Regions from separate parts of the Homo sapiens genome. Here region 1 is linked to region 2. The links come from fine-mapping of genetic effects on gene expression. A gene starts in region 2. The other region holds a variant in brackets. All regions are shown on one strand. Distances are from middle to middle. Region 1 overlaps PIRAT1 (PU.1 (SPI1) induced regulator of S100A8 and S100A9 alarmin transcription 1). Region 2 holds the start of PIRAT1 (PU.1 (SPI1) induced regulator of S100A8 and S100A9 alarmin transcription 1).

Region 1 (5,381 bases), 44 kb after region 2:
TGCCCTTTTTTCTGCCATCAAAACAGAAGATGAGGGTAGGAGTTATCAAGAGACTCTCTCCAAATCTGAAGGAAATCACAAACCTGCAGTGCTGTTTCGAAAGTGTCCGTCAAGACCCTGGGTTTACTCTAGCTCTGAATTCCATTTCCACTGTGTGTGTCTGGGGCTTCACAGGGATAGAGAGGGTGATGGTGATGATGGTGTGGTCGCTTTCTCTTTAATCCACAGCTGTTGAAGTTTTGACCACATTAGGGCCAAATGTGGAAATTAACCTAATTTTTTTTTTTTTTTTTGAGACAGAGTCTTGCTTTGTCACCCAGGCTGGAGTGCACTGGCACGATCTTGGCTCACTGCAATCTCCGCCTCCCGGGTTCAAGCAATTCTGGTGCCTCAGCCTCCCGAGTAGCTGGGATTACAGGCACGCGCCACCATGCCCAGCTAATTTTCGTATTTTTAGTAGAGATGGGGTTTCGCCATGTTGACCAGGCTGGTCTCAAACTCCTGACCTCAGATGATCCGCCTGCCTCGGCCTCCCAAAGTGCTGGGATTACAGGCGTGAGCCACTGTGCCTGGTGACCTTCTTTTTAAATATACTTCACCTAGAAATCCATTTTGTGAGACGAAACATGAAAGTGATCATACTCCCTGCCAGTCTGAGGTGACCAGGGTGTGACTTGACTTATGGTTTCTAAACTTTTTATTCCCAAAGGAAATATTACAGGGAGGGCCAATACATACAACAGGGAAAGGCTGACGGCTCTAGGGGAAACTGAAAGCTGACAGGAGCCCCGCCCTCCACTCTTGCTCTTCCTGCCCCTCCCACACATCCTGGGAGCATCCGTTCAGAACCCCACGGGCTCCACAGAGTGTAGTTGGAAATCACCGCATACATAGAAAATATGAGCAAGAAAACCACACATGAAGAATTATTACTAAGGGCTGCCATAAGCATCATGCTTGTCTTTTGGGGAATTATGATTCATTGACCAAATAAGAACTTACCGCCATTTCTTCTAGCGTGTTTTATCCCAGCAACACTGTGTGCACAGAATAGCTTGACTCCATTTCCACAGTGGCCATTTTAAATTTTAATAAATGCTGTCCCTTTGCTTTGGTTCTCCCTAAATATTCGAATTAGATTCATTTTTATGGTCCCAGAAACGTGCTAGATTTAACAGGAGTCATTAAAATGTCTAAAAACATATATTTCAGGGAACTCCCAACATAGACAGTATGAAGAAACACACACACACACACACACACATATATAGTTCACTTATATAAAGTGAAATGGGTAACAATTCATGACAAGTGAAGTGATATTATAGGACAATGTATGATTAAAAACCAAGCCTGTTGCTCAGAAAATAATTGCTCTAGGAATTCAGTACTAAGATTGTCTTGTATCACAGTGGCATCCTAATTATGGTATACAGAAAAATGAAGGAGGTTGAATTCTGCTCTCCTGGGCCCTGGTCATGTCTCACCTGGAATGTTGACTTAGCTCTGAGCACCTCACTTTAAGAAAAACGTGGTCAAAGCACAATGGGCTCTGATGTGAGATCATGTCCTATGAAGAAGTGTTGGTAGAGTTGTAGCTGCTTTGTTTGGGGAAGGTAGTACACTGGTGCGATCCTTACTTCACCAGGGATTTTCATGGAAAAGAGTATGTCCAGCCTCTCTACAACCCTTCCCTTCTTCCCTTCTATCCTCCCTATTTACCTCTCCAGTGGGGTGGACACCAGGGGGTGCCATTGACACAGATTACAGTGTGAACTGTGTCCCTTTGAGCTGTGCAAAACAGTGGCCCAGTCAATGCCTTTACAAAAAGGGATTTGAGTTTTTCCATGCGGTTTCAAAAAGTAGGTACAAATTAAAAGGCCAGAAAACAAGGGTAGTGAGATTTTGGCTTAAGATAAGGACATTCTAACAGTGGGAGAAGATAGAATGAATGGCTCTAGATGTACGTGTTTGGAAAGGAGTCTTATTTAGAAGGAAGTCTGTGCCTCTAAAATTGATAGTAATGATAGTAACCAGTGAATTGCATCTTTGTGACACGAGTGGCCTTGTAGTATTTTATGTTTTTCACAAGTGGTCTCCTTCTTCATAACTACACCAATACTTCTAGGTAGGAATTATAATTATCTTTATTTTATAGATGAAGAAACTGAAGTTTGGACAAATTGCATTACTTTCCTAAGGTCACAAAGAGAACAAATTTGTAATTTCAGAATTAGTTTCTCTAATTTCAGAATGCAAACTCTTAACCATTATGCCACATTGCCTTTCAACAATGAGTTACAAAATCCCATCTTTCTTAGCATGTTCAAATGCTCAATTATTGTGAAACTTGATCTACAAATAAAATTAGAGCTTGACCTTGTACCTCAAGGGGTAAAATCATTTCTGTGGAACAAGGGTAGGTGAGATGGATTTGTCTTGCTCTCACTACTCACTGATACCGATGTCTGGGACTCAGGGGTGAACCTGCACACCTGGGCTCCAGATGGGGAAAGCTGTTCTACACATAGCATATGCCTCCAGATCCAATTCTATCATCTCATGCACCCAATGCATGAACGATGTGCAAAGGCTCATGCTGGATATTTTGATTTTGTCATTTCCCAAATTCCCTCTCCAAAAATCACCTTAAGGAGGCAACATGTGGTCTTACATGATACTTCAGAGCTGCTGGTGGGAGCAGAAAGGAGCAGAGCCCATTGGAGAACACGCGGTGCTCACTGTCATGTTGGAAACACTGAGATAAAAAGGAGAGGCAAAGCCTTTAACTGTGTGTGCATCCGACAGCTGCAGCTTTCTTATTGCTTGTGCTATGTCTGTGAAGTGAAGACCATGGTGAGACCCTCACTGAGGCTCTGTTAGTGTTAAAACAGATGTTCCTTCAACACTCACATCTTAGGTGGCCACTTTCACGGGGTGGAAAAGGATAATCTAAACCTTCCTGTTCTTGCCAAAATAACCATGTGTAGGTCTTTGTTCTGCACATCTCTGGAACACACAAATAGATTTCCAAGCAGTAGGAACCTCCTGTCCTGTTCAGTTGTTGGACAAACTCTTGTTCTGCCCATTCCACCCTAGTTTCCTGAAATCCTGGCTGTAGGGCTCCCATGACTGGAGCCTGTGAGAGCCTCCTTTGTCAGGAGAGTTTTCACAGCTAAAGCCATCAAGGCTGGCAGTGAAGGACACTGGGCTTCAAGCCCA[C/T]TACAGTGATGACAGGTATTGCCTTGGCTGCCCAAGCTGAGTGGTCGCCCCTCTGCAGGTCTGTCTGACTCCATCCCAGGGAAGAAGGCGGTGGAAGGTACCCATGGGCTGCAGTTGGCTCTGCCTGGCCGTGGGGGAGGATGGCAGAGGACTGACCTCTTGCTGCCTCAAAAGGGTGGAAGTTGTTTTGCCCTTTAAACTGATAAAGAAACAAGCTGGAACAGTAAAACTAATCCTCCGAAGCAATCCAAGCATGGAAACCAGAAATGTCTACTCAAATCTTTTCTCCATTTTCTTTCTTCATAAATTCGGAACATTTGTGGCAGAAAGAGAAATCAGAAAAAAAATGGATTTAGAAAAGAGAGAGAAGTAGTTTAGAGGGTTGTATAGGGAGGCAACATGATAAAGTTGGAAGAAAAATGGACTTGGAGAGAGAACAGTCAAATCTGGGCCTGCCTCTGAGTGCCTGTGTGGCCCTCGGCAAGTTTCCCTTCAACTTGAAGACCTGGGTCTCTATGATCCCTTTCAGTTGCAAGATTAAGACCTAAGAGTTCTTGCTTATATAAACAGAATTCTTCCAAGGCCATAATTATTTCCATAATCAAGAACTATTTATTAACTAAGCACCAGTGTGTGATTTTCTCAAGATAAGAGCAAGAAGAAATGGTCCTTACAGGCTAGATAGCTGTGACATGGACCAACAACTAAGCATATCTAAAAATTCGACTAATTCATAATATGAATTCAAAATATGAATTGAATAAGCAAAAATATATATACCATGGGAGTTGAATGTTTTGACGGGGAAAATCCAGACGCTGACTTTAGGATGGTACTTTCTGTTTTGATTGATCCTGAGCCACACTGGACTCTCTGGCATGGGCATAACCCGAGCATCTGCATGGCAGAGTTCTGGCTCATTGCCATTTGCAACAGACACGAAGGGTGGCATCAAACAAAAGGAAACTTCTCCGTTGACCATCATAAATGATGAAGACCAAGGCTTCAACTCACTTACTGGAGTGGATTTCCTTTTACGGATGGCCTTGGTCACCCTGGGGAGACTAAGAATGTTTAAGTAACTTAACAAACACTCAGTAAGGAATGGGATCAGGATTCTTCTCCAGGGCTAACAGTTTTAACTGCCATTCTACATTTCCTGCCTGAGACAGCTGCCAACCTGGGCTTCTGTGACTGCCACTCCATGCTTCTCAAGCCAGGGTGCACGTTAGACTCATCTGGAGAGCTTGGTAAAGCCATCCATGTCCAGGCTCACCCACAGAGTCCTCAGTTTTCTCAGTTTGAGGAGGGGCCTGGGTACCAATACTTTTTAAAAGCTCCCTCTGGGTGATTCTAAGTACAATCAGGGTGTCAATCACTGATGTCCATAATGAAAAGTGTCAGACTCCAAAGCAAACTCAGGAGGACTGCCTTCATGGTATGGATCCCTGGCAGATTTGAACCTTAGAGGATTAGGCTAGCAGCTTGTGGAAGCGGATGCAAATCTTCCAATCCTCTAAGGGCAGATGAGCCTCTGGACTCATGAGAACGCTGGTCTTGGTAAAAATCCCCTGCATACCACAGGCCTCCCTTGGAGAAATCACCTAAAGAAACACCAGGAAGAATTCATTCTGGCCTCAAATAGTTACATGGATGTTTGTTACAAGAAGACACATTTAACCATTGAAGTTCCTACTCATTGAGTGAACCGTGTCTCCCTCCTCTCTGGTTTCCAGAAACAAGGATTTTTTTCTAAACTCCTCTTACTTCTTGCCTCATGGCTAATGCCCACGGAGGTGGGGTGAGTGACCTGCTGGTAACCAAGGGAAATGAATCTGCACAGGAAGCCCAGGCCCTCCCTCCCTCCCTTCTCATTAGAAGCCAGCTTCCCCTGGAAAACAACCACATTCTGCTCTACTTTCTCATGTCTATGTGGCCCTCCCTGAGTGGGAAGGCTTAAGTTTTGTAAGATTCATCATAAGTGTGGTGATATTTCCTAATTCCAGGGAATGGAGCTAGTCATGCCACACATCTTTGCTGTTTTCACGAACTGAGGTAATTTTTATTTTTATTTTTATTTTTTTGAGGAACAGTCTTACTCTGTCACCCAGGCTGCAGTGTAGTGGTGTGATCACAGCTCACTGCAGCCTTGACCTCCT
Region 2 (5,381 bases):
TAATTGTTATTATTGTTGAATCTCAAGAAAATCTTAAATTCTCTAGAGAATAAATTTGAATTTTAAAAATTCTCTTTGGATTTAGTGTAGGAGGAAAGACTGGCACTCTGAAGTGGGTTGTCTTTAAAGAAGTATCTTGAGGGTAACTTTTAGCCAACTTGATTCAACTGAAGTCAGTAAATCTCAGATGGATAATCACCACGTGCTGGTGTAGGGAGAATTTACGGTCCTTATCTTCAAAGGCCTTGTGAAGGCCTCATCACTTCACACTGGGATTATAATACGTAATCACTTTTCATTCATCTATTCATTGATTTATCAAGCATGAGTTGTGCCCTTGAGGAATTCTATTCCAGAAAGAGAGACAGCTTTGTTAAAAAAAAAAAAAAAAAGAAAAAAGAAAGAAAGAAAAGAAAAGAAAAAACAAAACTATCGATCACATGGTAGGTAACAGTATCAGAGAATTCTGTATAAAATGCTGTGAGGGTGGTAGATCATAACCCAAGATGAAAAGGTTTATCATCCTTTTCATCTTGGGTTATGATCAGGGTTGCATATAAAATCCTTTGAGTCTTCCTGAAGTTACTTTCTTAACTATAGCGTGGTTAGGCAAACTTGGCACATCCCTACAATGAGCTACACACATCAGACCACAAAGGATGGAGCCCATATAAATATATGAAAAGCAGATCTTCCCTAGTGGGCCTAAAATGAACCTTCACAGATATGTATCAGAAGGGGATTCATAGCCATGCTCTGTGAGATAGCAGAAACGATAACAACTTTGAAATCAGATGGAAAATTGGACTTAAAAATGCTTCTCATTTAGTTGTGTAATCTTGGACACAGTACTTGCTAGCTCAGAGCCTCTCCAGCTCACAGGATTGCTGTGAAGCAAGCCCCCAGCAGAGGCTGATATCCAGCGTGTGCTCCATAAATGTCGTATAACAATAGCTGCCTTGATCTGCTAGCTTTGGGGTAAATTTTACATATGTCATTTAATCAAGAAAACAACCTTCTAAGTATAATTGTTCATATTTTGCAGATGAAAAGACTGAGGGTAAGAGAAATCACGTAGCTATTAAGTGGTTTAGCTGAAATTCACCCCATTTTTATCCTCTTCCAAAGTTAGTGCTCTTAAGAATTACATAAATAATTATATATTAAGTTCATTGTATTCTCCCTATAGGCTGCTTAAGAATACAATAATATAAGATAAAAATATGTGTACATGAACTTATATTTATCAGTAAGTACTGGGGTATAAAATTGTCTTTCCCTCTTTAAGCCCTAATGTTCATTGACGCGTTAACAATGAGTCACGATTTTATTTCTTGACAGTAGATGGCGCTGGTGATTGTCAAAAGAGACAGAGTCTCCCACACCCCTCTCCTTTCCTGAGCCATTGAAAAACAAAACAAAGAGCTGGTGGAAAAAAAACGCAAAAATTTTCATCGTAATGAAGGATTGAAATTAAAAATTTGGAACCGTCATGTGATTAAGCAGAACGTGTATATGATCCACACACTTTTATTTGGAACTCTAGGGAAAACCTCCTGAGCTATTTGTAAAATTTCATTCTCAGGATTAAAACAAAATATAGTAAAATTTGATTATCCAGACAAAAGATGGATTTATATTTCTCTATTAGACAGATTTTATTTCTGCACCTTAATTTTAGCAAGGGATGAATATTAAGACAACTATGAATTTAGTTGACAAAAAACTCACATATATCTGACTTCCAGAGTCCTGAAGGTGGTATAGAGGAGTATGGTAGTCAAGATAAAAACAAAACAAATTATTATATGACCTTTGAGTATATCACTTAATGTCTCAGGACAGAAGTTTTCTCATTTGTAAAACTGAAATATTTCTTGCCTAATTCACATGGCAGTTGCAAGGATCAAATACAGTAAAGTAGTATAAACACCTTGAGAATTGTCATGTTCTTTCCAAATATGCTTTTTTTCATCTTTACCATACAATCAACCCAACCACCTATAGGTAAAATCATAACACAAGGAAAATTGGAATTCAGAATAAAATACTTGAGCATTAAATTTCCTCATTGGTCCAAAAGCACTTTAATAGGCTTTGGTGAATTAGATTCGTGCAAGAAAAGGGACTAATGTATTTTCAACCATCAAAGGAGTGTTTAGCTTAATAATCAGCTACCCAGAAAATGAAACAGAAAAACACTTGAATCCAAAGCACCGAAGTGAACTGAAGCGGCCTCCACTGTCCTCCCCTAACTGTCCGCACGGCCTGTCCTCTGTAGGAGTGTCCTTGTGTACGTGTGGAGGTTGTGGACACACATGCCTAGGGTTACAGATGCTCTACAGACTTAACTCAGTATAGTGAAGCTGCAGAGATAGTCATAGCCCTAAAGAAGCCTATCTGAGAGCTTTCCTTTGGGTTTTACAAGAGGCATAGATATTTATTCTGCTCTTCTTTTAACAAAAGACTCCCAAATATTTGCTGAAGATGTAGAGTATTGCCATTTCTGCTTCAAAAGCTCTGAGCCTCTCACGGCACCTGTTGCTGCTGCCCCAAGAGCGGAACACACCCTCCACACCAGCAGCCCCAGGACTAGATTCAGCTTCTCAGTGAACCACTTCCATGCTCCACGATGTGCTCTGGGCTTTGGGGACTTAAAACATCGCAGCCGCGGCATAACAGAGATGCGTCAGCTTCTAAAGTCGTAGTGGGCAGTTCTAGAAACCTGACCCTTTCTTCTGCTGCTACAGATTCTATTGGCTTCTGGAGATTCAGAGACGTCCTTCCTCAAGAAGGAACCTCTGCCTGGCCTTCAGCAGGGCCACTGTCATGTGCGATATTCACTTAGAGCCTTATCACATTTGTGGCTGTAGAGGTGTTTGCGTGCCTTGTTTAATTTATCCCACTAGACTGTAAGTTCAGGGCAGATGGGGGATGTCTGGTTTTTGTTTTTTTTTTTTTTGCCTAATACTGTGTCCCCATGCTGGGCACAGACCTAGCACAGAGTAGGTGCTTGGCAAAGAGCTTTTGAATGAATGAATGATTGGCTGTAGTCTTCCTGGGAAAGGGCTGGCAGGCAAGGAAGTGTTAAACCAGCCACTAACCGCCCAGGCTGACCAGCCTTCTCCCTATCTCCCAGGCCTTTCGAACGGAGCCCGGGGAGGACAGGCTGGCAGAGGAGGGAGGAGGGTTTCTAGCTGAGAGAGACTGCGGCTGTGGGCCTGCAGCCTACCCCTCTTCAAGCTCTCCGGAGCCGTTCCTGCGAAACCAGCCCCCACAAGTGAGTGTCTGCGGCCCCCTCCCTCCTCTTTCCCTTATTGCTCCCTGTGGGGATGGGGCTGACACCGAGCTTGATCCTAAGTAAAAGTCTGTTCTAACAGGAAGCAAATAATGTTCCTCCCCTGACGGAGGTGTTTCCTTCTCAAAGAAGTTACAAAGGGCTCTTTTCAGAGAGAAAGGGGCTGGGAATAGTGTGTGGCCTCACTGCCGTCTGCCTTGGGTGGAGCCAGCACGTTCTGGAATCCAGGGGCTTCCTCTTCTAAAGAGGCGCCGGGCCATGCACTGAAACGGGGTGGCCCATCCTCTGGGAGCCCCAGTCCCCTTACCTGCTTGATACAAGCATCCTCTGGAAGTGCCTAGGGTCATTGCCAAGGCCCCTGTTTTCTTTTCTTGGCTTCCAGGACGCCGTAGTCTGTGTTCTTCCTCCCGCCCTGCAGTTCCCTAGCTGGATTCTCTTCCTCGCTGTGATCTCTTCATCCCTGGTTCCCCAGCGCTCTGTCCTGAGCCCCCTTCTCGAACCACACTCTCGTCTGAGTGAGCATATTGAGCTTCATGGCTGTACATTTCCTCCCCGTGCCGAGGAATCCCACACACTTAGTTCCAGCGCCCAGCTCGCCCCCACCTCATCCAGGTCCTTACATCCCCCTGCAGACTCTGTCTCCACTCCACCTCATTGGTGTTTCCCACTCACTAGATCTAAAGCCAAACTCTTGATCCTGACTTCTCCACCCACCAGCTTGCCTTTCTCTTCATCTTCCCCATCTCAGAGAGCGGCTCGGTCCCGAACTGTCTCTTTCCTTCACACCCTTCATCTAACACACAGCAAGGCTTCTCAGCTCTACCTTCAAAATCTACTCCTCATCTTTCTTCTTCCCACCACCGCCACTCAAACGCCCTCGGCCTAGAGGGATCAGACCCATACTACCTGGCTCCTGAACCTCTGCAAGAGTCTCTGATCTTTCTGCTTCCACTCCTGTCTTGCTACAGACTATTCTTCTGACAGCAGCCGGGGTGATCTTTTCAACTACCAGACCGTGTCACCTTGCTTAAAACCAGCTGGGGCTTCCCTCACACGCAGCATGACACTCAAACTCCACACGACAATCTAACCAGCCTCACCAACTGTGGCCCTGGCTTGTCCTTCTGACTTAGCTTCTGTCTCAGCTCAGGCTACACTGGCCTTCTTGGTATTCCTCAGCCCCCCAGCTTGTCACTGCCCAGCCTTTGCACTGTGTCCTCTCTCTGGAGTTCTTTCCCTCAGGTCTTCAGGTGGCCTTGCTCTCGGGCTTTCTGGAGAGACTTAAAAGCCATATCCATGGAGAGGCTGAGTTTGGCCACCTACCTAAGGTAGCCTCTCATCACTCTCCATGCCTTCGTCTGGCTTTCCTTTTGATTGAGCACTTGTTACTACTTGTGTTCAGCTCTTAGATGAGGGCACAAGGAACTCTGGCGGGTTTAAGTAGAAGAAGGATTTATGTGTAGACTTTGACAGCTCCAGGAATGTTTGGGAAGGCTTAGTGGTTTATAGCCAAGAAGAGTGCACGCATTGCACGAATTGGTGGGATCTCTGCTGCCCCAGCTGCCACTGGTTATGTCACCAATGCTACCGTCCCAGATACTAACACTGCTGGAACCCGCTGTCACCAGCACCCTTGGAATCCCCATCTTTCTGCAGCTGCTGCCATCTCCTATGAGGGCTTTCTCAGTCTCTTTGTCCTTGAGTCATTGGTTCCTAACTCAAATTGTGGGCCAGTGTGTCTGGCTGGTGGAGCCTTGGCCACAGGCCTTGGCTCCTTCTACAAGAGAGGCTGATAAAACCACTATCAGGCATTTTCAAATTCTATGTAATGGACCATGGGCTCTGCTTATCCACCAGATTCCATGAGGTAGGGAATCTCAAACATAGGATGGAGGTTCAGATTCTGGGTAACCAAAAAACAACGATAAGCATGCCCTTGACTAGCTGGCTTTCTAGTATATATTTACGTGTTTATGTGTCTATTGCCTAGCTACTACATTAGAATGAAAGCTAGATGAGGTCAGGCACTTTGTCTTTTTCCCTCTGTATTCCGAGAGTTCAGAACAGTGGCTGCACAGAAGTG

What was found. PIP is the estimated chance that this variant, and not a neighbour inherited with it, causes the effect.
Region 1: its variant is fine-mapped to the expression of PIRAT1 in whole blood (INTERVAL, PIP above 0.99).

The regions. Positions count from the first base shown.
Region 1 is chr2:37,829,144-37,834,524 of GRCh38, reverse strand. The region is part of intron 2 of PIRAT1 (PU.1 (SPI1) induced regulator of S100A8 and S100A9 alarmin transcription 1); the gene reads left to right. Among named protein-coding and RNA genes, the nearest start is that of PIRAT1, 44 kb to the left of the region's middle. RefSeq lists an enhancer at 979-1,038. The variant C/T (reference allele first, on the strand shown) is at 3,223.
Region 2 is chr2:37,873,642-37,879,022 of GRCh38, reverse strand. PIRAT1 (PU.1 (SPI1) induced regulator of S100A8 and S100A9 alarmin transcription 1) reads left to right here and starts at 3,160. Exons shown (of 4, transcript NR_110012.1): 1 at 3,160-3,280.